Regions from separate parts of the Homo sapiens genome. Here region 2 is linked to region 1. The links come from fine-mapping of genetic effects on gene expression. Tissue or cell type: whole blood. Region 1 holds a variant in brackets; the other region holds the start of a gene. Each region is shown on its reference strand, or each on the opposite one. Region 1 overlaps TMPRSS6 (transmembrane serine protease 6). Region 2 holds the start of ALAS2 (5'-aminolevulinate synthase 2).

Region 1 (2,909 bases):
GCACCAAGTACGTACCAGGCGTGGGGTTAGGGGAAGGGTACATAAGGATGAAGAGAGAACATTCTCGGGGGAGACAGACAGTGGTAAGAGCTGACATGGATGGGGAGATGCAGGAACAGTGGAGACACAGAGGAGGCTCCTGCCCAGCTAGGGTCAGGGGAGGCTTCCAGGGGAGGGTTGTTTAAGCTGAGGCCTGGAAGATGAGTTGGCAACATTCAGACAAAGGGGAAAGACATTCAGGTGAAGACACAGGTGCCAAGACAGGAAGATGTGAGAACATCCGCAGCCTGCCAGAGGGGCTGAGGTGGGGGGCAGGCGTGCCTGGGCGAGGAGCAACCAGAATGGCAGACAGGGCCTTGGGCGAGGAGCAACCAGAATGGCAGACAGGGCCTTGCCGGCCAGCATAAGGATCTTAGGCCAGGAGTTCTCCCTCCTACCTGCACCTTAGAACCATACGGGGAGTTTCAAGAAAAACTGCGTATCAAGGCTCCCCGGGGGACTGTGATATGCAGCCCTCGTGGAGAAGCGCTAGGGCAGACTGCAGAGTTGGGGCACTGCAGAGTTCTAAGGAAACCATGAAGGGATCAGATGTGGGCTTCGGAGACATCTGCAGGTGCTGTAACAGAGCAGCGAGGAGCCAGCCAGAGCCCAGAGGTGCCTCAGCAGACAGAGGTGGGGGACAAGAAGCTGGAGGAAGACACTCATCCACACGGGCTTTTTTCTTTTTTCTTTTTTTTGTTTTTTTGAGACAGAGTTTCGCTCTTGTTGCCCAGGCTGGAGTGCAATGGCGCGATCTCGGCTCGGATCCCCCTCCTCCCGGGTTCAAGCGGTTCTCCTGCCTCAGCCTCCTGAGTAACTGGGATTACAGGCATGTGCCACCACACCCAGCTAATTTTGTATTTTTAGTACAGACAGGGTTTCTCCATGTTGGTCAAGCTGGTCTCAAACTCTTGACCTCAGGTGTTCCGTCCGCCTCAGCCTCCCAAAGTGCTGGGATTACAGGCATGAGCCACCGTGCCCGGCCCTCCACATGGGCTTTGGTCGGGGGCTGTCACCATGAACCCCACAGAGAAAGAGCTAGAATAAAGTGACAGGGAGGCAGAGGGGCAGGTGCGACCCTAGCAGGGGTAAGGGTGGGCAGAGCAGGAGAGAAGTAGGCTCCTGAGATGCAAAGGGAATAATGTTAGGGAGAATAGAGAACAGGGGCTCCAGGCTCCTGAGATCTCACTTCTGCCCTTGACCACGGACAGGCCCCATCAGCAACGCTCTGCAGAAAGTGGATGTGCAGTTGATCCCACAGGACCTGTGCAGCGAGG[T/C]CTATCGCTACCAGGTGACGCCACGCATGCTGTGTGCCGGCTACCGCAAGGGCAAGAAGGATGCCTGTCAGGTGAGTCCCCCGGGCATGGGAGGGAGAGAGGAGGGAGAAAGGATGCTGCCCACATCACCAGGGTCTGGCCCTTTGCTCACATCAGCCTGCTGAAGCCTCCCATCCTCCCAGCAAGGTGGTGATGGCCACCCCTACTTTACAGAAGAGGAGACTGGGGCTTAGAAAGGTTGAGGAGCTTGCCCAAGGTTGCAGAGCCACAGATCAGAAGAGATGCTGTGATGGGCAGGTGTTAGGCTCAAACCCAGTTCTGCTCCTTGCCCACCACAAGGCACTAGGCCCAGGGTCCCACAGTGAGGTGGATGCATGGAAGAAGAAAGGGGTGTCAGCCACAGAAGGGAGGCGGAGGCAGAGTGGGGGCGTGGGGACACAGCCACAGTTCCAGGAGGTCCCAGGCTGGCTGGAGGCCGGGGAGGGCTGGCTTGGGCTCTCTCCATTTAGCAGGCGAGGGGAAAGCAGAGCTTTAAGACTGAACGTGACTCTGGCACCCAGTCAATTCCCAACAGTCAGGACTTAATCCCTATGGCTCTTCACCTGGAAAAGGGGGTGCCCTTACCCTGCTTCAGTCCTTTCTCCTTTCCCCCTTTCAGGGTGACTCAGGTGGTCCGCTGGTGTGCAAGGCACTCAGTGGCCGCTGGTTCCTGGCGGGGCTGGTCAGCTGGGGCCTGGGCTGTGGCCGGCCTAACTACTTCGGCGTCTACACCCGCATCACAGGTGTGATCAGCTGGATCCAGCAAGTGGTGACCTGAGGAACTGCCCCCCTGCAAAGCAGGGCCCACCTCCTGGACTCAGAGAGCCCAGGGCAACTGCCAAGCAGGGGGACAAGTATTCTGGCGGGGGGTGGGGGAGAGAGCAGGCCCTGTGGTGGCAGGAGGTGGCATCTTGTCTCGTCCCTGATGTCTGCTCCAGTGATGGCAGGAGGATGGAGAAGTGCCAGCAGCTGGGGGTCAAGACGTCCCCTGAGGACCCAGGCCCACACCCAGCCCTTCTGCCTCCCAATTCTCTCTCCTCCGTCCCCTTCCTCCACTGCTGCCTAATGCAAGGCAGTGGCTCAGCAGCAAGAATGCTGGTTCTACATCCCGAGGAGTGTCTGAGGTGCGCCCCACTCTGTACAGAGGCTGTTTGGGCAGCCTTGCCTCCAGAGAGCAGATTCCAGCTTCGGAAGCCCCTGGTCTAACTTGGGATCTGGGAATGGAAGGTGCTCCCATCGGAGGGGACCCTCAGAGCCCTGGAGACTGCCAGGTGGGCCTGCTGCCACTGTAAGCCAAAAGGTGGGGAAGTCCTGACTCCAGGGTCCTTGCCCCACCCCTGCCTGCCACCTGGGCCCTCACAGCCCAGACCCTCACTGGGAGGTGAGCTCAGCTGCCCTTTGGAATAAAGCTGCCTGATCCAAGCCCCGCTGCTGGAGTTTGAATGGGACCCAGGCACCAGCCTCATGCCCTTGACTGGAGCAGCCCCTGCTTCCTGCTCAGCCTGTTTGACAAGTGTCCAGAAGGCCAAGGTGGGCTCAGTGGCAGTGGGCGTG
Region 2 (2,909 bases), not on the chromosome of region 1:
CCACCCCCAAAATGGGCAAAAAGTAGACCACTCAGAAGAGAAATAGACAACTGATAAAGAAACATGAAAAGACACCCAATCTCATTAATAATGAAAGAAAAGCAAATCAAAGCAACACTGATATACCATTTTTAGTGCCTATAAGATTAACAAATATTTTAAAAATTGAAAATAACAAATGGTATTGGTGAGTTTGTGAGAAAATAGATACACATTTACTCTTATACACCACTGGGTGGGGAGGGGTGTATAACACATGTATAGGACAAATTGGCAGTATCAAAAACTTTAAATGTCTATTACCTTTAGATCCAGGAATGCTTATATTTTAGGATGCCACCCTCTAAAAAAATGCTCTCACAAATGCCAAAAGATGTTCATTGCAACATTAATCATAATGGAGGGGGGAAAATCCTTGGGAATAACCTAAATTTATATCAATAAGGGAGTGTTTAAATAAATTACAGTGCATTCAGATTTTGTAACCTCCATGGTATATTGGCATATGGTTGAATGAAAAACAAACAAAAAAAAGAAATTGCAAATCAATATGTAGACTATGGTCTTATTTATGTAAATATAATATTAATGATGACAATCTGCTCTAAAGATGAAATTGTCTGGTTATAACATGGTCCTGCTGCCTTAGGATTGATAAGGGAAGGGGAAAAAGAGAGTGACAAAAGGGGAAGAAAATGAAAAAGGGAGGAGAAGGTAATAGAAAAGATAAGACAGAGAACTTCACATTTTTAATTGTATATTATGAGAGGAAGAGAAGAGTGTGGGTTCTGTAACTACATTGCCTAGGTTCATAGGCGGGCTCTGTACTTTCTAGTTGGGTAATTATCAACAAGTTACCTCACCTCTCTGAGCCTCAGTTTCTTCATCTGTAACATAGGGATAATAGTACCTATCTTTTAAGGTCCTTATGTGGCTAAATTAATTCATGTAAAGCACTTAGTGAAGGGTCTGGTGCATTGTAAGCACTCAGTCAACAGTAGGTGTTATTTATTTGGGCCAGGCACTGTGGTATGCGTTTTCCATACATGATATTACCAAATTGTTACAACAACCGGGGATCTAGTCTGTGGAAGCTGACTGTTTGAGCTCATAAGCACAACACTGTATTCTAGGTCTGACTCCAGAGCCCTCCCAACTTGTGCCACAGTCACTTCTGGGTTTTATTGCCCTCCTTTTATAGTTGAGGAGATCTATAGTCAGAGAGGTGGTTTTGCTCAAGGTATCCCAGCTCTATGTGGATGGTCTGATTCCAAAGCCCAAATGAGCTAATTTTACTGTCCTATAGAGAGAAGAAAATAGGGAAGAGCCAGAGCTGGGGGAGGGGGTACACTAGAGGGAGGGGCTACTTTGGGTTTTATCTCTAGCAAGGAAGGGACTGAGATACCTTTGGGGCCAATGCAGGGCCAGGCCGGCAGAAGGCAGGGTGGGTGGGGCTGAGTCAGAGGAGAAGGGATAAATGCCAGGTCCTAACCCAAGTACCCACCTGTCATTCGTTCGTCCTCAGTGCAGGGCAACAGGTAAGAGCTGCTTTCAGCCTGGCACCCTATCTCTGGTCTGCCAGCTGGTCTCTCAGGGCTGTACACACTGACTCTCTGGTCTGAGTAGATCTGACTTTTTCCTTTGTTTGTTTCTTAGAATCTGTCTCTTTTTCATTTTCTTTTTATCTCCCATGTCTCTTTCTGTCTTTCCTCATTTTCAGCTTTTTTCTCTCTTTTTCCCTTCGTTACTTTCTTTTGTTAGTTTTCAAGATCATTCATTTCATTTCATCATTCTCTGACACTCTTGCTTTCTCTTATTTTTCCCTCTGAATTCTAACTATCTTTTTCTCTAAATTTCTTTCTCTCCCCCTTTTTGTCTCTTTCCTCGGCTTTGTATCTCTCCGTCTCTGTGTTTCTGTCTCTCTCTTCCTCTCTATCAAGAACGATGGCTTAATATTTCTTCCTGCAATTCCCCATTCCTCTCTCCCTTTGACTCCCTCTACCTGCTGGGCTGACAGCAGAGCTCAGTGGGTCAGAGCCCATGGGGAGCCTAGGGGTGGGGGAAGAGCTAGGGAGGGAAACTAAGAGGATGTGGGGGTGATGGGAATGATGAATTGGGTAAGGAGAGATTTGGGGAATTGAGAGATGAATAATTAGCAGAAATAAGTGAAGAAAGTGGAAGAGGAATGTAGTGTCACTATACAGAAAGTAAACAGATTTCTATTCTCATCCTAATTCACTGTGAGACCCTAGGCAAGTCATTCACTCTCTGAAAAAAAGGCTTGGCCTGTAATTTCCACCACCCTTTCTAGTTTTGATTTTGTGATCTTCTAAATTTTCCTGTTTCTAAGAATTTCTGATTCTCTGATTACAGTTATCTAAAGTTCTGTATGATTCTTTCATGGTGGGAAAGGGGTACTAGGAAGAGAAGTAAGGCCTGATGTTTCCAACTCCTGAAGAGAAATTACCACTTCCCTTCCAGACCTAATTGACTTTTGCAAAGCAGGCCACAAAAGGGGTGGGGGGGTGGGGGACAAGGAATGCTGCAATGAGTGTTTTCTGGCTGTCTGCTGGGGTAGAGTTGCAGTTGGCCCTTTTCACCTCTGGGAGTACAGATTGGGTGCTGACACAAGAGAGGATTTTAAAGTCGTAGGGAAAAACTTTCAGTAATGATCTGTTACTTGGTCTCAAATTTCACCATCATCTCTTTGGTTAAAAGTATTGTTTTAAGAAGATGCCTGGCAAGCATTATCACACATTAGGTACATAAGTTATTGAATGGTAGAGTAAATGAATATTCAACAGTACCTGAAATTCCACTGTAGTTACAGATCTGTTCCTTTGGTAAGGCATTGGTGACAAATGGCATATGACCTGGAAAGAGGCCTATGTTAGTGCAGCAGAGGAGAT

Evidence for each region.
Region 2: it holds the start of ALAS2, and the variant in region 1 is fine-mapped to the expression of ALAS2 in whole blood (TOPMed, PIP above 0.99).

What each region holds. Positions count from the first base shown.
Region 1 is chr22:37,065,304-37,068,212 of GRCh38, reverse strand. It overlaps TMPRSS6 (transmembrane serine protease 6), which reads left to right. Exons shown (of 18, transcript NM_001374504.1): 17 at 1,251-1,387; 18 at 1,975-2,777. The coding sequence ends at 2,133. Among named protein-coding and RNA genes, the nearest start is that of KCTD17, 15 kb to the right of the region's middle. The variant T/C (reference allele first, on the strand shown) is at 1,317.
Region 2 is chrX:55,029,571-55,032,479 of GRCh38, reverse strand. ALAS2 (5'-aminolevulinate synthase 2) reads left to right here and starts at 1,503. Exons shown (of 11, transcript NM_000032.5): 1 at 1,503-1,538. It also overlaps a transcript of PAGE2B not described here. RefSeq lists an enhancer at 1,498-2,909.